Regions from separate parts of the Homo sapiens genome. Here regions 1, 2 and 4 are each linked to region 3. Evidence: fine-mapped QTL for protein levels in blood plasma. Region 3 holds a variant in brackets. A gene starts in each other region. All regions are shown on their reverse strands. Region 1 holds the start of CXCL9 (C-X-C motif chemokine ligand 9). Region 2 holds the start of PDCD1 (programmed cell death 1). Region 3 overlaps PTPN22 (protein tyrosine phosphatase non-receptor type 22). Region 4 holds the start of CCL19 (C-C motif chemokine ligand 19).

The links. A credible set is the group of variants that fine-mapping cannot tell apart. PIP is the posterior inclusion probability: the model's chance that the variant is causal. The UK Biobank Pharma Proteomics Project read protein levels with antibody pairs (Olink). The fine-mapping took linkage between variants from a reference panel, not from the people measured, so its PIPs are less certain.
Region 1: CXCL9 starts here. The variant in region 3 is the best candidate, but not a certain one, in a credible set for the plasma level of the CXCL9 protein (UK Biobank, PIP 0.70).
Region 2: it holds the start of PDCD1, and the variant in region 3 is the best candidate, but not a certain one, in a credible set for the plasma level of the PDCD1 protein (UK Biobank, PIP 0.52).
Region 4: CCL19 starts here. The variant in region 3 is the best candidate, but not a certain one, in a credible set for the plasma level of the CCL19 protein (UK Biobank, PIP 0.64).

Annotation. Positions count from the first base shown.
Region 1 is chr4:76,004,762-76,009,761 of GRCh38, reverse strand. CXCL9 (C-X-C motif chemokine ligand 9) reads left to right here and starts at 2,253. Exons shown (of 4, transcript NM_002416.3): 1 at 2,253-2,376; 2 at 3,488-3,614; 3 at 4,869-4,953. The coding sequence starts at 2,313. SDAD1-AS1 (SDAD1 antisense RNA 1) reads right to left here. Exons shown (of 3, transcript NR_125906.1): 3 at 3,820-4,689.
Region 2 is chr2:241,856,790-241,863,068 of GRCh38, reverse strand. It overlaps PDCD1 (programmed cell death 1), which reads left to right and starts at 4,175. Exons shown (of 5, transcript NM_005018.3): 1 at 4,175-4,306. The coding sequence starts at 4,231. LOC124908032 (a long non-coding RNA gene) reads right to left here and starts at 3,997. Exons shown (of 2, transcript XR_007088436.1): 1 at 2,992-3,997; 2 at 1-172. RefSeq lists an enhancer at 4,007-4,969.
Region 3 is chr1:113,831,418-113,839,513 of GRCh38, reverse strand. It overlaps PTPN22 (protein tyrosine phosphatase non-receptor type 22), which reads left to right. Exons shown (of 21, transcript NM_015967.8): 12 at 894-970; 13 at 1,107-1,924; 14 at 4,521-4,604; 15 at 5,075-5,205; 16 at 6,376-6,403. All of the region lies in intron 3 of AP4B1-AS1 (AP4B1 antisense RNA 1), which reads right to left. Among named protein-coding and RNA genes, the nearest start is that of AP4B1-AS1, 23 kb to the right of the region's middle. The variant T/C (reference allele first, on the strand shown) is at 4,568.
Region 4 is chr9:34,687,068-34,695,163 of GRCh38, reverse strand. CCL19 (C-C motif chemokine ligand 19) reads left to right here and starts at 3,888. Exons shown (of 4, transcript NM_006274.3): 1 at 3,888-4,073; 2 at 4,822-4,954; 3 at 5,141-5,234; 4 at 5,325-5,594. The coding sequence starts at 4,025. The coding sequence ends at 5,345. It also overlaps a transcript of PHF24 not described here.

The DNA of each region.
Region 1 (5,000 bases), not on the chromosome of region 3:
ATGACTAGTGGCCTACCAAGGTTCAACCCTACCCAACAAAATCTTATTTCTTAGCATTTGATTTCTCTCTTCAGGAAGAAATTAAATTTAGTTTTCAGTTCATTTTATTTTTTCTCAGAGCAAGGTGAAATGTGGGGGGGTGTGTGTGTGTGTGTGGGTGCACATGCGCGCACACACGCATGCAGTGCTGAGTCCATAATGAAAAAAAACGTTGAGAAACATTGTTTTACAATAAGGAAATCTCCAATCTTTAGCTAGTCAACCAAAATAAAGATGACGTTTCTTAACTTCCCCTACAACTAGGTGTAGCCATGTGATTAAGGCCTGCCTCCATGGGAGGTGATAGAAAATGATGGGTGCAACTTCTAGGATGTCTAAAAAGGAGGGACATGCCCTTTTTCTGCCTTCTCATCATCCTATACCTGGAAATTGGACATGGTGGCAAGCCACCTTTGGCCATGTGCATGAGGGCAGCAATCTAGAGATGGTGACAACACAAGAAAGGAGAAGCCTGGAAGACCTCATGGGAAAGAGCCACTATCCAAGTGCTAATCCACCTACATCTCTCAGGGAGAAATAAGCTTCTATCTTAGCCACTGTTTTCTGTTGTTGTTTTTTTTTTTTTTATTTTTCCATAAGTTATTGGGGTACAGGTGGTATTTGGTTACACGAATAAGTTCTTTAGTGGTGATTTGTGAGATTTCGGTTCACCCATCACCCAAGCAGTATACACTGCACCCTATTTGTAGTCTTTTATCCCTCACCCCGCTCCCACTCTTCTCCACAAGTCCCCAAACTCCATTGTATCATTCTTATGCCTTTGTGTCCTCATAGCTTAGCTCCCACATACCAGTGAGAACAGATGATGATTGGTTTTCCATTCCTGAGTTACTTCACTTAGAATAATAGTCTCCAATCTCATCCAGGTCACTGCTAATGCCGTTAATTCATTCCTTTTTGTGACTGAGTAGTATTCGATTGTGTATATATAAACCACAGTTTCTTTATTCACTCATTGATTGATGGGCATTTGGGTTGGTTCCATGATTTTGCAATTGTGAATTGTGCTGCTATAAACATGCATGTGCAAGTACATTTTTCAAATAATGACTTCTTTTCCTCTGGGTAGATACCCAGTAGTGGGATTGCTGGATAAAATGGTAATTCTGCTTTTTAGTTCTTTAAGGAATCTCCACACTGTTTTCCATAGCGGCTGTGCTAGTTTACATTCCCACCAGCAGTGTAGAAGTGTTCCCTGATCACCAAGTCCACACCAACATCTGCTGTTTTTTGATTTTTTGATTATGGCCATTCTTGCAGGTGTAAGGTGGTATCACACCGTGGTTTTGATTTGCATTTCCCTGATCATTAGTGATGAGCATTTTTTCATATGTTTGTTGGCTATTCGTGTATCTTCTTTTGAGAATTGTATATTGATGTCCTTAGCCCACTTTTTAATGGGATTGTTTGTTTTTTACTTAATGATTTGTTTGAATTCATTCTAGATTCTGGATATTAGTCCTTTGTCAGGTATATAGATTGTGAAGATTTTCTCCCACTCTGTGGGTTGTCTGTTTACTCTGCTGACTGTTCCTTTTGCTGTGCAAAAGCTCTTTAATTAGGTCCCAGCTATTTATCTTCATTTTTATTGCATTTCTTAGCCACTGTTAATTTGGGTCTCTTACATGCAACTGACCCCTTATTCTAACCAATTTATTAGTTTAAAAAATAATACTGTAGCAGGAATGATACAGAATGAGCTTACCACTAGTAGAAAATGACCTGGTCCCAGAGGAAATTAAGGTGCTTTAAGTTGTTAAGTGGGCAATATAAGAAAATATCAATGTAGCCATCTATTATACAGAAGAATATGCCATAAATAGTAAGGGAATTTGAAAAGTATATTATTTATCTGGACTTTAATATTTCCCATCTGGAAACCACATCTCCAACCTTTGTTGTATAACATTAGTATATTCATTATATAACCTATTCTTCACACAGGTGAGCAACTGTGAATGTGCCAAAGGCTATCAGTGTTGCTAGTTTCACATCCCTTACTATAAACCACCCATTTATGTGAAATGGAAATAAAAACATGCAGAAATTCCCTTGGATCTGAGACTAGGGTTTCCCCCAGCACAATCAAGTTTGTGGTCAATTTAGTTAGCTCAGCTAAAGATACTAGCCAATCAGAGTTTAGGAGAGAAATGAATATCCTAAATAAATATGATCCCCAAAATGTGTTCTCTAAAGAATTTCTCAGGCTCAAAATCCAATACAGGAGTGACTTGGAACTCCATTCTATCACTATGAAGAAAAGTGGTGTTCTTTTCCTCTTGGGCATCATCTTGCTGGTTCTGATTGGAGTGCAAGGTAAGGGGTTCTGAGTTAGGTTGTAAAGTAAGAGAAGTGATTCACTGTAAAAGAATCTTGATTAGCCAGATAAAGGTGAATGTTCTGCCTGCATTGAAGAGTAATATTTGGTCAGTCATAAAAGCTTCTCAGTGACATGACCAGTTATCCAAAGTTCATAACTTCGATCTGCCAAGTCAAACACAAGTCTTTGTAGTCTAGGTGTATGAATTCCTAGTAAGTGTTCAATAAATGTTCATTGAACTGGGTAATAATGAGAACTCTATCTCCTAAATTATTTTCTTCTCCCTGATACTGTTTTTTGCTAAGTATATCTGTGGCTAACCAATTAAGGATCCAACCAATAATCAGAGAATTTGTCCCTAATCTATTTACTAACTATCTTTGTTACCTTGGACAAATTACTTAATCTTTCTAGACCTCAGTTTCCTCATCATCTGTAAAATAGAACTTTGTAGTTATACCTTTTCTGACTGCTACACAATGTATGGCATATGGTACAATAAGTACCAAGTAAATATATGAATTTAAGAATTAAGATAATGTATTTTAAGGGGTTTTCAAAAATTTAAAACACTATTGAAAAGCAAGGCAGTGGGGAGGAGAGAGGATGAGGATGAAAGTGGTGATTGGTTACAAAGGAGTGCTTTCTATTCAACACCAACACCAGTTCCATTCCTTAAGGTCAGATAATAAATAATAGATGGTTTAGGAGTTGCTTAAGAAACTGTGATCAGCATAGCATACATGAATTAGTTATCTGTTTGTCTTGTGATAGGCATTTATTAAATATTGTGAAAGTCTCTTTTTCTCCCACGGACTTACGGTGTGGTAGTTAAGAGCAACGCCTTTGGACTCAGAGAGATCTGGGCTAAAACCCTGCCCCTGCTCCCTAAAAGCTGTATGACTTTGTTCTTAATCTTTCTGAACCTTAGTTTCCTTATGTATAAAATAGAGATGATACCTCCTTCAAAGGTTTGTGGTGATTATTTTTAGGCACTCGGTAAATGATAGCAATAATCATGACTCAGTCAAGTGTATCATTTTGATAGATCACCTAAACTGAAACATTGGCCTATACTGATGTGTTCTATCTTTTTCTTTCCCTCAGGAACCCCAGTAGTGAGAAAGGGTCGCTGTTCCTGCATCAGCACCAACCAAGGGACTATCCACCTACAATCCTTGAAAGACCTTAAACAATTTGCCCCAAGCCCTTCCTGCGAGAAAATTGAAATCATGTAAGTAACAACCCAGCTAACATGCATGCACCATATTGGCAAGAACATTAAATTTAGCATGAGTTTTACCCTTGGAGTGCTTGCCCATACAAACACTTAAAAATCAGATGGTTACCCCCTCCATAAATTTGGGCAGCTCCTTTCTTTTCTTCTCCTTAAAAATGCAAGGAATTTCTGGTAGATTAGGCCCCAAGAATGACACATGTTTATTGTACAAAATGTTTAATGCAGGTAACACAATAGAAGAAAATAAAAATCACGCATAATTCTACCCTTGAGTGACAAATACTGTTAACCCCTTAGTATACAGTTTTCTAAATCTTCCTTACTTGCTTCGTGTGCACATAACATAGATATGTTTTTACATACACGTATATAAGCACAAAAATTAAATCATATACTATACACTGTTTTGTAATCTGCTTTTTCATTAACACTATATCATGAACATTTTCTCGTGTCAGTAAATCTCTAATAATGTCATTTTTACTTAATGTCATTTTTAATGGCCAAACTGTATTTCATCATATGGATAAACCATAATTTATATGACCAGGATTATTGTTGGAAATATAGATTATTTCCAAATTTTTACTGCTGAAATAAAACTTACTGTGGCAGTATTGTGTCTGTAATTCTTTCCTTTCTAGAGATTAGGATTGCTAGGTTGAAGGATGTGTGCATATTTTGTCTTTATAAGTCATCCTTGACTACTCTTATTCTCAGACTATACAGAAAAATTAAAGGAACATTTAAATTATTTCCAGACAGTCTACTGTAAGTAATTTTTAAAATTTAACCAGGGCCGGGTGCAGTGGCTCACACCTGTAATCCCAGCACTTTGGGAGGCTGAGGTGGGCAGATCATGAGGTCAAGAGATTGAGACCATCCTGGCCAATGTGGTAAAACCCTGTCTCTACTAAAAATACAAAAATTAGCTGGGCGTGGTGGCGCATGCCTGTAGTCCCAGCTATTCGGGAGGCTGAGGCAGGAGAATCGCTTGAATCCAGGAGTTGGAAGTTGCAGCAAGCTGAGATCGCACCACTGTACTCCAGCCTGGCAACAGAGCGAAATTCTGTCTCAAAAAAAGAAAAAAAAAAAAATTCAACCAGTGACTCATCTTGTCCTAGGAAATAATTTTAAGTAGTTTCATTAGAAAATTCAGCACAATTCATACTGATTTTCATTATTTCTGAGAAGAAGCATTTAAATTATTAATGAGAAAAAACTATCTCATTGCTATTTCTTTGGCAGTGCTACACTGAAGAATGGAGTTCAAACATGTCTAAACCCAGATTCAGCAGATGTGAAGGAACTGATTAAAAAGTGGGAGAAACAGGTTGGTGAAAAGGAAGATCAAAATTTTCTTTCTTTTAGAAATTAACT
Region 2 (6,279 bases), not on the chromosome of region 3:
TGCAGCCTTTGATAGGCACACATTAGCCAGAAACGGGGACTCAGGATGGGATCGAGGTGTCACATCAAAGTCATTAACCTGGTTGTGACGTTGTCCTGTGGTTTTCCAAACTGTTATCATTCAGAGAGACTGAGCAGAGTGTATGAGGAAACATCTGTGTAATTTCTTACAACTGCAAGTAAATCTACAATTATCTCAATTGTAAATGATACAATACTCAACCAAAACATACAACCATCAGCCAGGTGTGGTGGCTCACGCCTGTAATCCCAACTCTTTGGGAGTCCAAGGTGGGAGAATTGCTGGAGGCCCGGAGTTTGAGACCAGCCTGGGTAACATAAAGAGACCTCCTCTGCCCCCACCCCAAATTCTACAAAAAAAAAAAATGTTAGATATGAGCTGGCCACGGGGTGCACGCCTGTGGTCCCAGCTACTCAGGAGGCTGAGGTCGGAGGATCGCTTGAGCCCAGGAGGTCGAGGCTGCAGTGAGCCAAGATCACACCACTGCACTCCAGCCTGGGTGCAGAGCAAGACCCTGTCTCTAAAAGAAAATAAACAGACAAAAACCACATACAACTTTGCTTGTTGTAAATTATCTTTTAACTGAATGCCCTGGATTGAATCTGGCTGCTGCCATCCCAGGGCCAGTGATTTGGATGGGGTATGACCCTCTGTGAGGAAGGAGCAGGCGGTGGGGGAAGGGCCTGGGTGTCCAGGTTCCCTGGGAAGGAAGGCTGAGAAAAGGAGATGGGGGAGGGGTGCGCAGGGCCGGCCAGCCAAGGGCCCCTTAGCCCCATCTACCCTGCTCCCCGGACTCCGCCTGCCTTTCCTCCTCGTGACAGAAGACAGTGGAAGCCTACTGGGTGGAAGGCACGGGCTTAGGATGTGTGTGGGAGGAAAGTGTGTGTGCTGGGGAGCATGTATGTTTGGGAGTTGTGTGTGTTGGAAATCGTGTGTTGGGGATTGTGTGTATATTGCAGATTTTGTATGTGTGTTGGGGATTGTGGTGTGTGGGTGTTGTAGATTGCGTGTTGGGGATTGTGTTGGGGATTGTGTATGTGTTGGGGGTTGTGTGTGTGTTGGGGATTGTGTGTGGGGGAGATTGTGTGTGTGTGCTGGGGATTGGGTGTGTTGGGGATTGTGTGTGTGTTGAGGATTGTGTGTGGGGGAGATTCTGTGTGTGTGCTGGGGATTGGGTGTGTTGGGGATTGTGTGTGTATTGGGAATTGTGTGTGTGTTGAGGATTGTGTGTGTTGGGGATTTGTGTGTGTGTTGGGGATTCTGTGCATGTTGGGAGTTGTGTGTGAGTTGGGGACAATGTGTACAGAGGATTGTGTGTTGGAAATTTTGTGTGTGCGTTGGGAATTTTGTGTATGTGTTGTGGATTGCGTGTACGTTGGGGATTGTGCATGTTGGGAATTTTGTGTGTGTGTTGAGAATTGTGTGTGAGGGAATTGTGTGTGTTTGAGATTGTGTGTGTATTGGGAATTGTGTGTGTGTTGAGGATTGTGTGTGTTCTGAGGATTGTATGTGTTGGGAATTTTGTGTGTGTGTTGAGGATTGTGTGTGTTGGGGATTCTACGTATGTTGAAAGTTGTGTGTGTGTTGGGATTGTGTGTGTGTTGTGGATTGTGTGTGTTGGGAATTGTGTGTGTGTGTTGAGGATTGTGTGCAGGGGGATTGTGTGTGTTGGAGATTGTATGTGTTGGGAATTTTGTGTGTGTGTTGGGGACTGTGTATGTTTTGGGGATTGTGTGTGTTGGGAATTTTGTGTGTGTGTTGAGGATTGTGTGTGGGGGGATTGTGTGTGTTGGAGATTGTGTGTGTGTTGGGGACTGTGTGTGTGTTGGGGACTGTGTGTGTTGGGGTGTGGTGTGTTGGAAATCGTGTGTTGGGGACACCGTATGTGTTTGGGGGAGGGTGTCAATAAGTGGTCTGGAGTGTGATATTGGGGTGCAGGCTCCATGAGTCCCCACCCCACACCTGAGCCCTGGGACCGCCTATCTGCTTCGGGGTGGGGTCCCAGGACCCTGTAGGTTCAGCCTACTAGTCCAGGCCCAATGCCCAATGCCTGCATCCCTGCAGGCCCTGTGCTCTCCAGGCTCAGACCCCTCGCAGCCCTGCAGACCCTCCCTGGGTCCATGTGTCTCTTTGCAGGTGCTCCAGCGAGTAGCAATGTGGAGAGACCATCAGGCAGCCCTGGCCTCAGTGGCCGCAGTCCCCTGGCTCCACGCTGGGCCCACCCCACCAGGTCTCCTCTCCCATGGCCCAGGGGCCTTCAGTGGGACTGAGAGGAGGAGGGAAGGAGAGTGGGTGACAGGGAAGAACTGCAGGGAGAGAGGAGAGGGGTGGGAGAAGGAGAAGGAAGGAAGGGGTAGGATGGAAGCTGGGTTTCTCCCTGTGCCCGCCCCCTACTCCAGGACATGTGTCCAAGCCCTGGCAGGTGGAATTTTGGGGGCAGGGCCTTGGTGGTGAGGAGACCTTCCAGGGGTCTGATAGCATCTCCCATCTCAGAGCCCACCTCCTGGGCCCAGCCTCCCCTCCAGCCCACACAGTGGCATTCCCAGTCCTCAGAGGACAGCTTCGTCCCACAAAGCTCAGAGCCTTGAGGAAGGCCCACTGCTGCCCTGGAACAGAGACAGCATTCAACAGAGGTTGGAACAAGGCTCTACAGGGCTGGGGGCAGAGGGAGGTTCTGTCCAGAATCTGCCTTCAGGACAAGTACAGCCAGCAGGGGCAGCTTAGCCACTTATCCACTGCCTGGGCGAGGCACAGGGCTATGGAGGCACCTACCAACCAACAGTTCTCCAGCCCCAGAGCCCCAGCCCCTGAGGCACAAGGGTGGGTGTGCCAGGAGACAGTTGCTGCGGGCCACCTTAGCTGTCTGGCAGCACAGTGGGTGCTGCCAGGCTCCCTGGGGGCCCCCCGCCAAGCCCACCTGGCCAGCTGGGCCCCCCCCACCTCCCCACCAAGCCACCCACACAGCCTCACATCTCTGAGACCCGGGAGTGGCCCTTTGTTCATAAACGAGAGCTTCCTCGCCGTGGCCGCGCCTCGCAGACATCATCTTTGATGCTCTTTTTCCACTGTTTCGGTGCTTTAATGTTTTCCCTTCAGAGCCGGGCCGAGTGTCTCTCGGAGCCAGGCAGCCGCGCCAGCTGTCAGGCGGTTTCTAGCCTCGCTTCGGTTATTTTAAGCTGATGAGCCTGACGCATCTCATCACTAATATCAGCAGTTTCATTTCTCCTGTTTTCCATTCGCTGTAATAAAATGCTCAGCACAGAATACAAGGAGATAAGCAAGCCATTTCACAAACGCCGGGCCGCCAGCCAGGCCCAGGCACTGGACCCCCTGAACCACCCCACCCTGGCACGAGTGGGCTGGAGGGCAGGGCCCCGGGGAAGAAGGTCAAGGCTGGAAGGGGAGGTCAGCCTCACAGCCAGCCCCTGCCACCGCCCCAGCCCCCCCGTCAGGCTGTTGCAGGCATCACACGGTGGAAAGATCTGGAACTGTGGCCATGGTGTGAGGCCATCCACAAGGTGGAAGCTTTGAGGGGGAGCCGATTAGCCATGGACAGTTGTCATTCAGTAGGGTCACCTGTGCCCCAGCGAAGGGGGATGGGCCGGGAAGGCAGAGGCCAGGCACCTGCCCCCAGCAGGGGCAGAGGCTGTGGGCAGCCGGGAGGCTCCCAGAGGCTCCGACAGAATGGGAGTGGGGTTGAGCCCACCCCTCACTGCAGCCCAGGAACCTGAGCCCAGAGGGGGCCACCCACCTTCCCCAGGCAGGGAGGCCCGGCCCCCAGGGAGATGGGGGGGATGGGGGAGGAGAAGGGCCTGCCCCCACCCGGCAGCCTCAGGAGGGGCAGCTCGGGCGGGATATGGAAAGAGGCCACAGCAGTGAGCAGAGACACAGAGGAGGAAGGGGCCCTGAGCTGGGGAGACCCCCACGGGGTAGGGCGTGGGGGCCACGGGCCCACCTCCTCCCCATCTCCTCTGTCTCCCTGTCTCTGTCTCTCTCTCCCTCCCCCACCCTCTCCCCAGTCCTACCCCCTCCTCACCCCTCCTCCCCCAGCACTGCCTCTGTCACTCTCGCCCACGTGGATGTGGAGGAAGAGGGGGCGGGAGCAAGGGGCGGGCACCCTCCCTTCAACCTGACCTGGGACAGTTTCCCTTCCGCTCACCTCCGCCTGAGCAGTGGAGAAGGCGGCACTCTGGTGGGGCTGCTCCAGGCATGCAGATCCCACAGGCGCCCTGGCCAGTCGTCTGGGCGGTGCTACAACTGGGCTGGCGGCCAGGATGGTTCTTAGGTAGGTGGGGTCGGCGGTCAGGTGTCCCAGAGCCAGGGGTCTGGAGGGACCTTCCACCCTCAGTCCCTGGCAGGTCGGGGGGTGCTGAGGCGGGCCTGGCCCTGGCAGCCCAGGGGTCCCGGAGCGAGGGGTCTGGAGGGACCTTTCACTCTCAGTCCCTGGCAGGTCGGGGGGTGCTGTGGCAGGCCCAGCCTTGGCCCCCAGCTCTGCCCCTTACCCTGAGCTGTGTGGCTTTGGGCAGCTCGAACTCCTGGGTTCCTCTCTGGGCCCCAACTCCTCCCCTGGCCCAAGTCCCCTCTTTGCTCCTGGGCAGGCAGGACCTCTGTCCCCTCTCAGCCGGTCCTTGGGGCTGCGTGTTTCTGTAGAATGACGGGTCAGGCTGGCCAGAACCCCAAACCTTGGCCGTGGGGAGTCTGCGTGGCGGCTCTGCCTTGCCCAGGCATCCTTGGTCCTCACTCGAGTTTTCCTAAGGATGGGATGAGCCCCATGTGGGACTAACCTTGGCTTTACGACGTCAAAGTTTAGATGAGCTGGTGATATTTTTCTCATTATATCCAAAGTGTACCTGTTCGAGTGAGGACAGTTCTTCTGTCTCCAGGATCCCTCCTGGGTGGGGATTGTGCCCGCCTGGGTCTCTGCCCAGATTCCAGGGCTCTCCCCGAGCCCTGTTCAGACCATCCGTGGGGGAGGCCTTGGCCTCACTCTCCCGGATCGAGGAGAGAGGGAGCCTCTTCCTGGGCTGCCCGTGACCCTGGGCCCTCTGTGTACACTGTGACCACAGCCCGCTCCTGGACCCTCTGTGCCCGGCTGGCCCTCTGTGCCCAGCCAGCCTGCACCTGGGGATGCCAAGGCCTGGGGAGGGTGGTTTCACCCAGGCCAAGCCTAAGACAGTCCCTCTGGGCCCTGCTGGGTACCGGGGTGTGACACCACTGGGAGGACAAGATGAGGGGCACCCCTGGGGCCGCCCTGACACCCCCTCGAGGCTCCTGCCCCGGGGGTCCTGGTGCCCCTTCACTGTGGCAGGCGACTGGGGGTTCCCCACCTCGGCCCCTCTCCCGGGGCCTGCTCCCCGGCACCTGAGGCAGCATCCTTGTCAGGGCCGTGCCTTCCTGCCTCAGCGCCACCTCTTAAGGTTGGCCCGTGGGTCACTCAGGACTCAGAACTGGAGATTCTGGGCAAAAGGCAAAGAGCAAAGGGCCAAAAGGCATCCCAGGGAGACGACTGCGGGGGAACCAGAGGGCAGAGGGGCGCTCGTCACAGGGGAGGGGGAGCTGAGCGAGGCAGGAGGGGAGCCGAGCCTCTCCCCCCGTGTCCCGGCTCTTCAGGCACGCCCTCGGGACGCCACCCTCCCCGACCCAGGCGGGAAAGATAAGAGCAAGGTGTCCGCAGCCTGACACTCGTGCCTCAGGTGCCCGCGCTTGTGCCGGACAAGACTCTCACAGGTGGCATGCCTCGGTTTCCCCACTGGTAACAGCACAGGGCACTCAGCAAGGCGCAGTGGGCATGACTGGGGTCCTGTGGGTCCTGACCCAGATGTGGCCACCCCGGCCGCAGTGGTCTTCATTCCAGGATGCCTCTTTTCCCTCCTGATCTATTCACTGCGTTCGCCATTCGGTCATTCCCGGGGCCACCACTCCCACCTCAGGTGTGTGCTTCCCTTGTGTTTTATGAGATATCCCCAACCCGGCTGCTTATTGGCCCCGTCCGAGGGCAGGAGCATAAATAAGAGCCTCTGCTTTGGCGTGGGACCACTGTGAGCTCCAGTCAGCGCTGCCACTGCTGAGCTCTGGGCCTTCGACAGGACTTGGCCCCTTACTGACTTCTCCGTGTGCTTTGGGTCATGGGTGAGGACGCCTCCTGGCAAGGCTGCGTCCTGAGGATTAAATCGGGTCATCTGTGAAAACTACCCAGCCCAGCCCCTGACACTTTTTTGTTTGTTTCTTTTAGTGACAGGGTCTTGCTCTGTCACCCAG
Region 3 (8,096 bases):
GGAAGCTGAGGTGAGAGGAGGACTTGAACCCAGGAGGTCAACACCGCAGTGAGCCATGTTTGTGCCACTGCACTCCAGCCTGGGTAACAGAATAAGACCCTAACTTAATTCAAAAAAAAAAAAAAAGATTGAGGCCAGGCACTGTGGTACACACCTGTAGTGTCCCAGCTACTTGGGAGGCTGAGGTAGGAGGACTGCTTGAGCCCAGAAGTTTGAGGCCAGACTGGGCAATACAGCGAGGCCCTGTCTCTTAAAAAAGAAGAAGATTGAGCATGGCTGGACAGGGGAAGAAATGTGATTTTAGGTTGGGTGGTCAGGGAAGGTTTCCTTATGCAGATGACAGTTAAGCAGAGATCTAATTACTTAGAAGGAGCCAGCCATGCAAAATTTGGAGCAAAAATATATTAATCAGGGGGAATAGTAAGTGTAAAAGCCTTGACTTGGAAATAAGTTTGGCATGCTAAAGTAATGGCAAGAAAACCAGTATACCTAGAGCATAGTGAGGAGGAAAAGAGTAGAACAAGATGAAATAGGTCCAGAGACCTAATAAGTACCTGTAAAGGGCTGAGATGCTGAAATTTCTAAAGGCAGAGTGTTTTTGAGACTAAAGTTACCCACCAAAGAACATTTTTAAAACTCCCACATTTGAAAAGATGATGATATACACAAATCCTTTCTAGTTTCTATAATACTATTAATCCTTTATTCTGGCCATCTCAGTATATGAACGAGTTCTTGCTGAGTTCAATATTTTGGAAGCTAATCTAACTCTTTCATGAATTATTTTAAATCTTTTTATTTCCTGAAAAATTACTTTTCAGCCTTCTAAATATTAAAATATCTTATTGACATTGCTTCACTGAAAACCAGCCTCTGACTTATTTCTTTTAAAGAGTCAAGCAAAGCATTGTATTCCTGAGAAAAATCACACTCTCCAAGCAGACTCTTATTCTCCTAATTTACCAAAAAGGTGAGTACAATTTTATATATCTAAATGTTGACTAATTGTGTCTGGGAGATGAATCTCATGCTTATACATCATTGTGATGCTAGGAAGCGGCCTGTTTGGGGTATGGTGTCATCATTACGCTTTCTTTTTGTTTTAGTACCACAAAAGCAGCAAAAATGATGAACCAACAAAGGACAAAAATGGAAATCAAAGAATCTTCTTCCTTTGACTTTAGGACTTCTGAAATAAGTGCAAAAGAAGAGCTAGTTTTGCACCCTGCTAAATCAAGCACTTCTTTTGACTTTCTGGAGCTAAATTACAGTTTTGACAAAAATGCTGACACAACCATGAAATGGCAGACAAAGGCATTTCCAATAGTTGGGGAGCCTCTTCAGAAGCATCAAAGTTTGGATTTGGGCTCTCTTTTGTTTGAGGGATGTTCTAATTCTAAACCTGTAAATGCAGCAGGAAGATATTTTAATTCAAAGGTGCCAATAACACGGACCAAATCAACTCCTTTTGAATTGATACAGCAGAGAGAAACCAAGGAGGTGGACAGCAAGGAAAACTTTTCTTATTTGGAATCTCAACCACATGATTCTTGTTTTGTAGAGATGCAGGCTCAAAAAGTAATGCATGTTTCTTCAGCAGAACTGAATTATTCACTGCCATATGACTCTAAACACCAAATACGTAATGCCTCTAATGTAAAGCACCATGACTCTAGTGCTCTTGGTGTATATTCTTACATACCTTTAGTGGAAAATCCTTATTTTTCATCATGGCCTCCAAGTGGTACCAGTTCTAAGATGTCTCTTGATTTACCTGAGAAGCAAGATGGAACTGTTTTTCCTTCTTCTCTGTTGCCAACATCCTCTACATCCCTCTTCTCTTATTACAATTCACATGATTCTTTATCACTGAATTCTCCAACCAATATTTCCTCACTATTGAACCAGGAGTCAGCTGTACTAGGTAAGTTATTTTTTAAAGTTTGCATAGAATTTTAGATTTCATTTTGTTTCTATAGAATAGTTGGTTTCTTCTCCTCTTCCCTCTTCTCCTCTGCTTCTTCTCTTTCTTTCTTTTTTCTCTTTTTTTTCTTTTTTTTTTTTGAGATGGAGTCTCGCTCTGTCACCCAGGCTGGAGTGCAGTGGTGCAATCTTGGCTCAATGCAACTTCCGCCTCCAGAGTTCAAGCAATTCTCCTGCCTCAGCCTCCTGAGTAGCTGGGATTACAGGCGCGCGCCACCACGCCCGGCTAATTTTTGTATTTTTAGCAGAGATGGAGTTTCACCATGTTGGCCAGGATGGTCTTGATCTCTTGACTTCGTGATCTGCCTGCCTCGGCCTCCCAAAGTGCTGAGATTACAGGCATGAGCCACCACGCCTAGCCTGCTTCCTTCTCTTTCTTCTTCCTGCTACTCCTCAAATAAATACATTCCAGGAGTGTTTTAATGCTGTAATAAGTTGAAAATAGCAACATCAAACATAATATTCCATGAAACAGGCAACAATGGAGGCAATCAAGATCTGGTACAGGATCTGTACCAGCAGGAGTGCTTCTAAAGAAGGCACGCCTCATTTCTAGAAATGTATATCAAAGGCTCACAATATACTGTTTTTTAAAAATATTTTTTGAAACAGAATCTCACTATGTTGCCCATGCTGGAGTGCAGTGGTGTGGACATTGCTCATTGCAGCCTTGATGTCCTGGGCTCAACCAATCCTCCCACCTCAGCCTCCCAAGTAGCTGGGACCACAGGGACACGCCACCATGCCTGGCTAATTTTTTTTTTTTTTAGAAATGGGGTCTTGCTATGTTGCCCAGCCTGGTCTTGAAAATCTGGCCTCAAGCAATCCTCCCACCTTGGCCTCCCAAAGTGCTGGGATTACAGGTGCAAGCCACCACACCTAGCTTCAGAATTTACTCTTAACATATAGAAGCAGCTTCCAAAGGAAGAGCAGAAAAAAATTTGATCAATAGCACCCAGATTTTTTGTTGCACAATTATGTGGCTAAAATGAGTTGAACATATTGCTAAAAATTGAATTATCTTCCTGCAGGATTTGGAAGGGGAGAACCTGATTTCTTGCTCTTTTGTAGTAATCTCGTAGATGACAATACATGTTTAGTATTTTGTGTAAAAATTTTATCATATGTATACCTTTACTTTCATGTTTTGTCTCTTTTATAATTCTGTATTTTTGCATATAATGCATATTGTTCTGTTTTACTGATTAGTTTGAAAGTAGAAATGAGCACCCTGTTAGAGATGATGACAATAATTTGATGTGGAAGATGATGAGGGAAAGCAATGAACAAGTTTAACTCCCTTAGGTATATCATCAAATAATTTGTAAAGCACATTCTACATAGATAGGAGGTGGAGAAAACTTTTGCTCTATAACATTATTTATTGTAGAGTTTCTTAATAAATAGTTGTGTAGATCATTTGTAGCTTTGTTGCAAAAATATCTTATCTGGATCTAAGATGTTCCTTCTGTGATTAGATTATTTTATACATTTTTAAACATTTAAATGTATTTTCTTTTCTTATACCTTAAACTTCTCTGAGCATCTGCATCATTAAAAAACAGAGCGAGACTCCGTCTCAAAAAAAAATTAATTAATAAAAACATACCCTTATTTTCAGGGATTGTAACAATATCGTCATGTGCCATCTGGTGGCAGTTTCTTGTAATACCATTTAAAATGTTTAATAAAAACTGAATGTTTGTATAGAAATACAGAAGACTATCCTATACTGTTGTTTTGTAAAATGGAAAAATACCCATATTCTTGAATTTTGTATAGAATGAAGAGATACTGAAATCTTTATGATTTTACCTAATGTATAACTGAACCTTTTACACGTCAAAGCACTTTATAATGTTTTATTATATAGTCTATGTAAAACAAAAGGAGTTATGTAAAAGTTAATTCAAAGCTTCCAAAATTAATATAATATTTTATGTTAACTGATACACCGTGACTCAATCAAAATGTTTTTGAGCTTTTATTTATTTATTATTATTATTATTTTTTGAGACGGAGTGTCCTGCTGCCACCCAGGCTGGAATGCAGTGGTGCAATCTCGGCTCACTGCAAGCTCTGCCTTCCGGGTTCACGCCATTCTCCCACCTCAGCCTCCCGAGTAGCTGGGACTACAGGGGCCCGCCACCACGCCCGGCTAATGTTTTGTGTTTTTAGTAGAGACACGGTTTCACCACGTTAGCCAGGATGGTTTCGATCTCCTGACCTTGTGATCTGCCCGCCTCGGCCTCCGAAAGTGCTGGGATTACAGGCGTGAGCCACCGCGCCCAGCCCTACTTTTGAGCTTTTAAAACAATAAATGTTAAAGAATAAGCAAAAACCTCCTGGGTTTGTACCTTAAGAGAATTTATTTTGCTTTTTCCTTGAATGAACAAGTGTCAACTTTACTGATAATGTTGCTTCAACGGAATTTAAATATAAATTATGGTAAATTTATATTTAATATTAGAATATAAGAATTTCCTTTGGATTGTTCTAATTAACAATTGTTACAATATTTTTGACATTTTGGATAGCAACTGCTCCAAGGATAGATGATGAAATCCCCCCTCCACTTCCTGTA[T/C]GGACACCTGAATCATTTATTGTGGTTGAGGAAGCTGGTGAGTACAGTTCAGTAAGTATAAAATAAAGTGTGGGATGGGCATGGTGGCTCATGCCTTTAATTCCAGCACTTTGGGAAGCTGATGTGTGAGCCTTGAGTTTGAGGAGTTCATTGAGGCCAGGAGTTCAAGACTAGCCTGCGCAACATAGTGAGACCTCATCTCTAATTTTTTTTTTTTAATTTAGCAGAGCAATAGCAGCATGCATGTGTAGTCCCAACTATTTGGATGGTGGAGGTGAGAGGATCACTTGAGCCCAGGAGTTGGGGGCTGCAGTAAGCCATGATTGTGCCACTGCACTCCAGTCTGGGTGACAGAGCAAGACCCTGTCTCAAAAAATAAAATGAAGTGTGAATTAACTAGATTACTTCTCAGGTCCTTTCAATGTTTTATGTATTATTTGCTGAGCAACATTTGATGTCTAAAAGAATACTATTCTTAAGAACCGAACTATATTCACTTTCTTCCAGGAGAATTCTCACCAAATGTTCCCAAATCCTTATCCTCAGCTGTGAAGGTAAAAATTGGAACATCACTGGAATGGGGTGGAACATCTGAACCAAAGAAATTTGATGACTCTGTGATACTTAGACCAAGCAAGGTCAATAATTTTTTAATGACTCTACTCATTTAGATTCAATAGACTACAGTTCTACTCCTTGTATTTTTAACACCCATCATTCAATAAATCCTAAGCACATACTAAATATAGAACAATGTGCTAGAGGATGTTGGGATAAAAAGGATGTATAAGACACAATTCTTGCCTGTAAGAAGCTTCTTGTCTAGTAGTAGAGATATAGGATGTGTACAAATCTTTATTTTTGCCTATATTTATTATAACAAAGCAAATGTGATCAATGTCATATGAAAGATAAAGAATTTCAAGTGTAGGAGATGCCTCCAGGTTGGAAGTGATCAAGGAAGATTTAGTGAAAGAGGAAACATTTGAGCTGATTCTTGAAGGATAGTTAAGGCAAAAATAAATGTTTCATACTTAAGTAGGAAGCTTGTTCACTGTAGTCATTTGGTAGGCTATATCATGTTTGCTGTGATAATATGTTATAGAGAATGACAGGTGTGCATATTACTTAAGATAAACCTTTTGGAATAGTGTGGTTGATGGTAAAGTCAGAGATGGGGGTGGGAGGGGTTTGTGGATTAAATAGAAAATAATTATTGAAAGTAGGTGTGTCCTGCTTCTGGAGGAAAAATAGAAGTGTATCTAAAAATGTTATGCATTTCTGTATAGTCTGTGAACCAATTCTCTTAAAATTTGAGAGATCAGAAAAATAATTAAACATTTTAAAGTACCTACAATTGCAATGCTGATAGGCAAATATTCTCTGCCTTTTAAATTATAATTCTAATGTACTAGTAATTATTATTGTCATTAATAATAGGCACATATATTTACTTTAACAACTCCCAGAGGAAAGAACAGTCACTCTTCCAATGTTATGAAGTAACTTCAATTTCCGCAACTTACCTCTAATTAAATTTTCAGGGAAATGTTTCAGGTGGGACAGAAATAAGTCAGAAGGGGATCAATTTAGGACTAATTGCCATGGGATATAAAAATCAGTGTAAGAGTGAAAGATGCCATTTCATAATTCAGCACACTTACAAATTAGGAAAAATAGGGTCTACATTTCATAATTATCTCTACAGCTATATTACATATAAGTTCAAAAATGCCATTTTTTGCTTTGAGTTTGTATAATTTGTATACATATTCTTCTTTCACTTTTCCTTTCTTTTTTTCTTTTAGAGTGTAAAACTCCGAAGTCCTAAATCAGGTAAAAATTTCTCTTGGCTTTAGATGACATTTAGCCCTAAGATTGGAAGAATGGTTCGTTAAGTTTAGAGTAATTCACTTCAGGAAGTTACTTGGTTCCCATAATAGCTTCCAGTATTCATTGATTTATTTCTGGCTTTCCCAGACTAGAAATTTTGTAAAGAGCAAGGTGAAGACAGGATTTTAGAATTCTGCTCCTTAATATATAACCTCTCTGAAATAATATATAAAAACTATTTCAGAGAGAATCTTTTAAAACTTTGCAGCTTTTCCACTATAGAGATTTTCCCACTGTTAACAGTGTGATTCAAAAAATTATTTCTGGCCACTTAATTCTTTAATTTGCTGTTGCCTCTCCAGTACTTGTCTGAGCTTTGCCTGTTTCATGCATTGAAGAACAAAAACTAACATTTATTGGGCACTTCCAGGTACTTTGTTTACATTATCACAAGTGGTAGTTGCCCTTAACATATTTATTCATACTGTCATATTATTCAAATACATATACAGATAATATAAAGGTTAAAAAACATGGGCTTTGCCAGGAATTTGAGGCTGCAGTGAGCTATAATGGCACCACTGCACCCAGCCTGTATGACAGAGCAAGATGCTGTCTCTAAAAAACATGACAACAGGCCAGGCGCAGTGGCTCACACCTGTAATCCCAGCACTTTGGGAGGCCAAAGCTGGCGGATCACGAGGTCAAGAGATCGAGACCATCCTGGCCAACATGGTGAAACCCTGTCTCTACTAAAAATTAGCTGGGCGTGGTGGCGGGTGCCTGTAGTCCCAGCTACTGGGGAGGCTGAGGCAGGAGAATCGCTTGAACCTGGGAGGTGGAGGTTGCAGTGAGCTGAGATTGCGCCACTGCACACCAGCCTGGGTGACAGAGCGAGACTCCATCTCAAAAACAAAACAAAACATGACAACAAAAACAAGGGCTTTAGAGTCAGATAGGCTTTAAGTCAAATCCCTGGTCTATGAAGAATTATCAACATGCATAAACTTGGTTAAATTACATACTTTCTCCTTCTATTTTTCTCATTTATAAAAGAATAGAATCCCTTAGATAATTTTTATGAGGATTAAATACAATAATGTCGTAAAGCTTTTAGCGTAGTACTTGTCAAATAAGTCCTCATTAAATATTATCGATTATAATTTTTATTAATCATTAAATAAGCATTTTACTAAGCAACTTCTGTGCACCTTACACAGGGTTAGAATAGGCAGGATGTATGAGAAAGAGTACTACTTAATGCTTATATTCAAATAGAGTAGATAAAATTAATACTCACGTGGAACCACTAAGTGATAATCTGTGTGGCACTGACTGTAATCACCAGGAGTCTGGGAAAACAGGATGGCATTACTGGAGTGGTTAGGAAAGGTTTCGCTGAGTGGAAGAAAGAACTTTAAATAATTTGTATAGACAGAGAGAAAAAAGGAGGGAATTCCAGCAGCAGGGATCAGCCTACCAATGACTCAAAGGTAGAAATGAGCATGATGTGTATGGAGAAATGGTGAGTAGGCTATTTTTTTTTTGCAATAGATATTCTAGTTTGTGAAATACAGAAAATAAATTTGGGTAAATAAGATGTGGGGCAAGATTCTGAAGGACTTAAAAAAGCTAGTCACATGAAATATCCAGAATAGACAGATCCATAAAGATAGAAGCAGATTAGTGATTGCCA
Region 4 (8,096 bases), not on the chromosome of region 3:
AGAGGTGGGGAGTGGGTGGGACTCCCCACCACTACAGAATGTTAGAGAATGTTCCAACTCTCTAACCATGTGGCTGGTTCTTCTGCTGACTAGCTCCCATCCAGAGGCTGTCTAGAGGCCCCCAGCCACCAGTTATCTCATTAGCATACAAAAGACACAATCTCTCCCAAGATTCCAAGGATTTTAGGAGCTATATGTCAGAAAAGGAAGATGAAGACCAGATATATATTTCACAATATCACATACACTCAAAAAAAATTTAACTGGAAAGATTTTAATAAAGGGACAATTTAAGAGATTAGGTCAGGATTAAGGAACTAACATGGGATGATAGGCAGTTGGGGTCTAGCAATGGTGAGAAACCATTATCATACAAAGGCTTGAAGGGGCAAGAGGAGGGAACAGTGTTTCCAAAGCCTGTCATCCCAGCACTTTGGGAGGCCGAGGCGGGTGGATCACCTGAGGTCAGGAATTTGAGACCAGACTGGCCAACATGGTGAAATCTCATCTGTATTAAAAGTACAAAAATTAGGCCGGGCATGGTGGCTCACGCCTGTAATCCCTGCACTTTGGGAGGCCAAAGCAGGTGGATCACCTGAGGTCAGGAGTTCAAGACCAGCCTGGCCAACATGATGAAACCCCATCTCTACTAAAAATACAAAAAACTTAGCTGGGTGTGGTGGCGGGTCCCTGTAATCCCAGCTACTCAGGAGGCTGAGGCAGCAGAATCGCTTGAACCCAGGAGGCGGAGGTTGCAGTGAGCTGAGATTGTGCCATTGCACTCCAGCCTGGGTGACAAGGGTGAAACTCCATCTCAAAAAAAAAAATTAGCCAAGCGTGGTGGTGCGTGCCTCTAATCCCAGCTACTCGGGTGGCTGAGGCAAGAGAATTACTTGAACATAGGAGGCAGAGGCTGCAGTTAGCTGAGACTGTGCCACTGCACTAGAGCCTGGGTGACATATTGAGACTCTGTATCAAAAAAAAAAAAAAAAAAAAAAAAAAAAGAATAGAGATAGACCCGTGGAAGGGAGGCAACCCAAAAGGATCACTGTAGATCAGTGGGCCTCAATCTGTAGACCACTTTGGGAGGCCAAGGTGAGCCTTGGGATTCTCCTGCCTCAGCCTCCTGAGTAGCTGAGTAGTCAGGAGTTGAGATGGGGTTTCACCATGTTGGCCAGGCTTGTCTCAAACTCCTGTTCTGGATAAACAAAACTTAGGAAGTTCATTAATAGTACATCTGCCCATAAGAAAAGCTAAAGGGAGAAAGAAAAAACAAAAAACAAACAAAGAAATGCTAAAGGGAGACCTTCAGAATGAAACAAAAGGACAAAAAGTAATAACTTACAGCCACACAAAGAAACAAAGATCTCTGATAAACATAACAACATAGCAGGCCAGGCGTAATGAACTTCTTGGATATGTATATACATACTTTTCATCAGATTTCAGATGTTTTGTCATTATTTCTTCAATTTTTTTAATGCCCTGTTCTCTCTATTCTCCTCCTGAGACTCCTGTGATGAGGTATATTTGATGGTATCCCTGAGGCTCGTTTGGATCTCAAACTTTAGCACATATCAGAGTCACTTGGAGGGTATGTGAAAATGCAGTTTGCTGGACCCCATCCTCAGAGTCTCAGATGTGGTAAGTGGGAAGTAAAATCTAAGAATTCGTGTTTCTAACAAGCTCCCAAGTGATGCTGCTGCTGCTGCCCAAAGGCTACTCTTTGAGAACAACTGCCACAGGGGAAATTATTCACTGCCAGAACTGCAGCAAGATGAAGGATTTGGGGAATTAATACCCCTCTCTCCTTCCACCACTGATCAGTTGCTGCTTCCCATGGGCCAGCCCCAAACAGAAGCCAGAAAGCAGGTGACCCTAAGTAATGCTATCTGCAGAGGTCAGCCTTCCAGGGAGCAGAGCAGGGCCGTGAAGAGTGGAGAATGGATAGGCTGGGGCAAACAGAATAACCAGAACCATCATGGACAGAAGAATGGATAGATCAATGGAAAGAGGGGTGGATGGATGAATTAATGAACAGATACCTGAATAAAAGGATAGAAGGCCAGGCACGGTGGCTCACGCCTGTAATCCCAACACTTTGGGAAGCGGAGGCAAGCAGATCATTTGAAGTCAGGAGTTCGAAACCAGGAGTTCGAAACCAGCCTAGCCAACAAGGTGAAACCTCACCTCTACTAAAAATACCAAATTTAGCCGGGCATGATGGTGGGTGCCTGTAATCCCAGCTACTCAGGAGGCTGAGGCAGGAGAATCCCTTGAGCCCAGGAGGTGGAGGTTGCTCTGAGCCAAGATCGTGCCATTGTACTCCAGCCTGGGTGACAGAGTGAGACTCTGTCTCAAAAAAAAAAAAAAAAAAAGGACAAAAGAAGAACAATGGCTAACAGAGCTTATTGTGCGTCAGCCTCTAAGCTAAGGGCTTTACTCAGGGTTCCTCACTTAATCCTAAGAAGTAGATCTTCTACCATTCCCATTTTACAAATAAGGACACTAAGACACAGAAACTGGAGAATTTTCACCTTGTCGCAGTTAGTAAGTGGTGGAATCTGAATCCCAAGCTAGGCGCTCTGTCTGCAGAGTCTCCCTCCTCTGCACCGTGACTACCCGTGCTGTGCCATGACCAAGTGGCAGACAGGCGGTGTGGAGTGGAGGTAAAGACTGCAAACCCTAGAGCACACCTGGGTCCAAATCATGCTCCAGTACTTACTAGCTGTGTGGCTTTGTGCTCTGAGCCTCATGTTCCTTATGTGTAAAATAAGAATAATAATGTGAAAATAAGAAAAACTACATCAATGGTATTGTTTTGGGAAAGTTAAGCAAGGTAATAGTGGTAAAGTCCTTGACATAGAGCCTAGCACATAGTAAACAATCAAAAATACCATTACTATTATTATGATTAATGAATGGAAAGAAGCTAAGTCAGAAATTTAAGAGGGAAATGTTCCCCCTCCCTCTCTCCATCCAAAAGAGGGTCTAGGGTTTGGGTGACGACGGGTGACTGGGCGTTTCACATTTAGTTTCTCTTTCAAGGCCTTCTCTTCTGACCTTTCTCATAAGGATGGGAAGTCACTTGTCCCCTCCCCCATCGGCCGATTCCTTGAAATTTTAAGATTTGTCTGAATATGAGCTGGCCAGCCCCTCTCCTTAGAAATCCCCTCTTGGTTCCCAGGACTGAGAAAAGGGGGAAAATGAAGGGGGCTATTCCAAGCCAGTCTCCCTCCAGCTGTTCCTTTGACCCAGGTGTTGGACATAGGAAAACAGTAAATAGAGGAAGGGGAGGGTTTGCTGAGCCCCAGAGGCCTGAGATGTGGGATGGGGGTCCTGGGCCTCCTCCCAAGGTACCTGGCCTTTCAGCTCTGCTTGCCCCAAGGGAAGGACTGGTTCCCACATAGTGGGCAGGCACAGTGATGACCTTGGAGGCCACCCCAGGATCTCATGGTTGTCCTGAGGGTGCCAGGGAGCCTTCTTCACCACCAGCCCAAGAAAGAAGCACCAGTGAGGACAAGGGATAAACCTAAGGAAGGGAGCACAGTTCCTCACTGTGGGCCCCACCTTTGACCATCACTTCTGAACCCCAGCTTCATGGTTGATGATGCAAATGCCATCAATGGGATGACAGGGCAATCCCTCTCTCTGGAGAAACAGTGCACAGCCCCCTTTACTGGGCCAGACTGCAGACTTAAGTTCTCAGAGCAGGAGCCAAGGAAAGCAGAAGGAAAGGGCAACCGCAGGGGGAAGAAGGGGGGCAGGGTGCGATTCTGCCAGAAAGAGGGGGGCAACAGGGGAATCACAGAATGGGACATGAAGGGGAATTTCAGGCAGAGAAAGTGAAGCTCTGGCCATAAATAGGAGTCAGCTGCAGGGCTCACATTCCCAGCCTCACATCACTCACACCTTGCATTTCACCCCTGCATCCCAGTCGCCCTGCAGCCTCACACAGATCCTGCACACACCCAGACAGCTGGCGCTCACACATTCACCGTTGGCCTGCCTCTGTTCACCCTCCATGGCCCTGCTACTGGCCCTCAGCCTGCTGGTTCTCTGGACTTCCCCAGGTAAGGCTGAAGGGAGAGTCAGGGTCAGAGGCAGTGGGGGGCTGGCAGTGGGTAATGTCTAGATCTCAGATTGCTTGGCACTGGACGTAAGGGACATGGTGAGTTCAGGCAAATGCTTAGGTCTGTATATTTCGGTGAGCCTGGCAGGTCCCTGCATGTGTGCCTGTAAGTGTGGGTGTCCCTGTGCCCCTGAATCCCAATGCGGGTGTGTCTTTTAGCACATCCTGGGGCCTATGGCTGTGACTGTCTCTGCAAGCTCTATTTCCTGCTGCCTCCGTTTCCCAGGCAGAAGGAGATTTGCTTAAGGTAGGGAGAATGGCAGACACTAAGCCAAGGCTGATATTCAAAAATTTTAGCAATTAATAAGGCTCCTAACACCAGCCTACCCTACCCCACGCCCCTCCCACACTGTGACCTGCATTAACTCTTTACTTGCTGGATTGTCCTGGGAGAGAGGTTGGGGTGATCAGGGCAGCAGGAAGTCATTTGTGGGGCTCAGGGCAGTGGTTATTTACAAAACAGTTTAGAAGTATGACAATATATTTAGCAACCAGTAGAGCCAGAGCCATATTGGTGCATAATGGCTGAATACCAGGTCTAACTCCTCCCCGACCCCACCAGACACACACACACACACACACACACACACACACACACACACACACAGGTGTCCTCAATCCGAGCTAGGGCCATGGCCATGCCACCCTCAAGGGTCCCTGTGTCCTGTCACCTTCTTTCCCCATCCCAGCCCCAACTCTGAGTGGCACCAATGATGCTGAAGACTGCTGCCTGTCTGTGACCCAGAAACCCATCCCTGGGTACATCGTGAGGAACTTCCACTACCTTCTCATCAAGGATGGCTGCAGGGTGCCTGCTGTAGTGTGAGTTGTGGGGAGGGTGTCTAGCCTCATCTCCCGTTTTAGCCCCTGTTGAGACTCCCACCTTCTTATTCCCCTTCTCCATGCCAAGCCCAACCCCTTCAAGGAAATCCCTGAAACAGGTTCCCAGACATGGTCCCCAGGCATGCTGGATTCTGGGGCTCCATTCTCTCCGGCCTCTCACCCCAGGTTCACCACACTGAGGGGCCGCCAGCTCTGTGCACCCCCAGACCAGCCCTGGGTAGAACGCATCATCCAGAGACTGCAGAGGACCTCAGCCAAGGCAAGCCTGGCCCTCCCTGGCCCTGTCTCCTCCCTCTGAGCTCCTGTCTAAGATTCCAGCCCATGATCCTTCCTCTCCTTCCTCCTCTAGATGAAGCGCCGCAGCAGTTAACCTATGACCGTGCAGAGGGAGCCCGGAGTCCGAGTCAAGCATTGTGAATTATTACCTAACCTGGGGAACCGAGGACCAGAAGGAAGGACCAGGCTTCCAGCTCCTCTGCACCAGACCTGACCAGCCAGGACAGGGCCTGGGGTGTGTGTGAGTGTGAGTGTGAGCGAGAGGGTGAGTGTGGTCAGAGTAAAGCTGCTCCACCCCCAGATTGCAATGCTACCAATAAAGCCGCCTGGTGTTTACAACTAATTGATCACAACCTGTTACAGATTTCTTTGTTCTTTCTCCACTCCTACTGCTTAACTAGCCTTAAAAAAAAAAAAAAAGGCACCTGGCACCCATAGATCTGTCTGCTGTCCGTTTGCTGTCTAGCCAGGTGGACAGGAATAGGAAGGGGGAGGTGGAATGGCAGGATCTATTTTCTCTTCTGTGGCCTAGGGGGTCTCCTTGCTCACCTCCACTTAACAACCTGATGCTCTCAGGATCAGCCTCATTGCTTTCCATAGTTCAGCGACACTAAGCTTGGGTCAGTTCCCTGAATGAGCCAGCGTCTCATGCCTCCCACTCTTTGCTCTCCAAGGCAGGTGTTCAAGCATCCAGGTGTCTAAGGAATCCAGTGTCACTGGGGGGAAGGGAGTTGTGGGGAACCAGCTCTCACGGCTGGGGGAGGTGGAGTGGGGCAAAGGGCCCAGCTCTACTGCCTGGGGGAAAATACCCATCCACCCATGCCCTTCCCTTGGTCTGGCACACTCTTCTCTCTCCTCTGCCCACCTGGCTTCCCATCTGGGTCCAGACGCCTCTTCCTCCAGGAAGCCTTCCCTGACCCCAGGCTGGGTTAGGTAGCCTCCTGCAGTGGCCCCTCACAGCATTCATCACCCTGACTTATAGTTGCTGGTTTGTCCAAATTTGTCCATGTTCTTGGACTGGGATCACATCTATTTTGGGTTCCACTGTTTTTGTGGTGTCCAGCATGCTGCTTGGCACAAGGCAGTCCCTCAATAAATATTTGTTTAGAGAATGAATAAATATGTGAGGAAAGGCTCAGCAGCCAGGGCTGAGGGTCCATCTGTTCATTCTGTCCATACAGAATCTGACCTCCAGGCCAGCCTTCCTCTCTCAGCCAAACTGAGCAAGGTCCAGCCCCATCTTTGCAATCCTGGGGCCATGCCTCTCAGGGACACCGACAGACAGACCTGGGAGTCAGAGGTCAGAGACAGGAGAGAGGCCCACGGGGTGGAAGAAGGAGTAGCCAGGGAAGCACAGGAGATTCCACATAGAGGAGCCCTACCACCACCCCTACAGTCTACATGGGCTCCAGGGCTCAAAGGCAACACTGAGACCAGAGACATCTCCCCAGATGAGACCAGAAAGGAATCTCAGCTCTGGGAGATGAGAGCCGTGTGACTCTTGGAGCATCCCACAGGGCTTCTCTGTACAGAGTGAGTGCCTCGTACTTGAGAAGTCTCCTGGGGAAGCAGGCTAGCCTCCAGACAGTGTTCTCTAAGGGCCTCTCCAGCTGGGAGTGACAAGGCTGTGCCACTGGGGTCAGATGACAGCAAGGAGGCCAGATTGAGCACCCTTGCTTGGGAAGAGAGGTGTCATTATATCGGGTATACGTCAGCCAGCAACAAAACCAGGCCTGGGCAGGCCTTGAAAAGGGAGAAATGGTGAGGGAGTTGTGAAAGCCCCTCCTCACTGAGAGCATGACATCCTCTTCCTCTCCTCTGCTCCCAGATGCAGGTGCTCAAAACCTTGGGTATCCCAGGTCTCAGAATCACCTGGAATACCAGGTGGGTGGGAGGGATAGGGATAGTTTTCAAGAAAAGCTGCAATAACCCATCCATTCATGCATCCATGCATCCATTCATTCAGCTGTTTCTGCATTCATCAGACCTCCATCCAGCCAACTGTCCACTCACGCACTTCCCACCCAGCCATTCTTTCATCCATCCACCAAGCCAGCCAGCCATGGCGTTCTAGGTCTCCCAGCTGTGGACCCCGTGCCCCGCATCCCAGCAGGCTGGTGTCTCAGAGGACAAACACACATGGGAGGGGAGCACATTGCCTGAAATCCTTCTCAGTGCCAGTGACATTTAGAGGAAGTCAGCCTGCCACAGAAGCAACAAAAGTGATCTTTCTGGACTATCGGAGGAACACACAGACGGAGCAGGGCAGGTGAGAGTGGGAACCTTGAAGAAGATGCTACCAGGATAGGGGCCCCTGGACGCTACCTCCATGACACTGCCGCCAGGAGGTACAGAGCAAATCCTGAATTCACTGCCTGGGCCAGAGTCCCATGATCCTGTCTCTGCCCCACTCATTGTGTGACTCTGGGCAAGTTCCTTTTCCACTCTGCACCCGGAGATCCAGTTTCCCCATTTGTCAGATGGGAGAGAGGAGCTTGATTTTTGAGACTCCTTCCAAACAAAGACTTGGCTCCTGAATCTTTGGTTCTCATGCTAAACCGCCAGCATTTGCATAGACACCCCACAAAGTCTTGCACATACAGAAAACTCTCCCTGGGGCCACCCTCTGAGATCAAAGGAGATGCTGAGGCTCATAAAAAGAGAAAATAATCTAGGAGCTAGTGAAGTGCCTTGGATTCAATTGACCCTGGAAGCCTGGGAAATGAAGAACTTGGAGGAAATCTGAAGGGGTGGACACCAGAGTCCCAGGGGAGCTGGCATGCAACCCTCCCCACCCCTTCTACAGCCAATGCTTTCCATCCTAGCTTTCTGCCTTCCTCTTTTT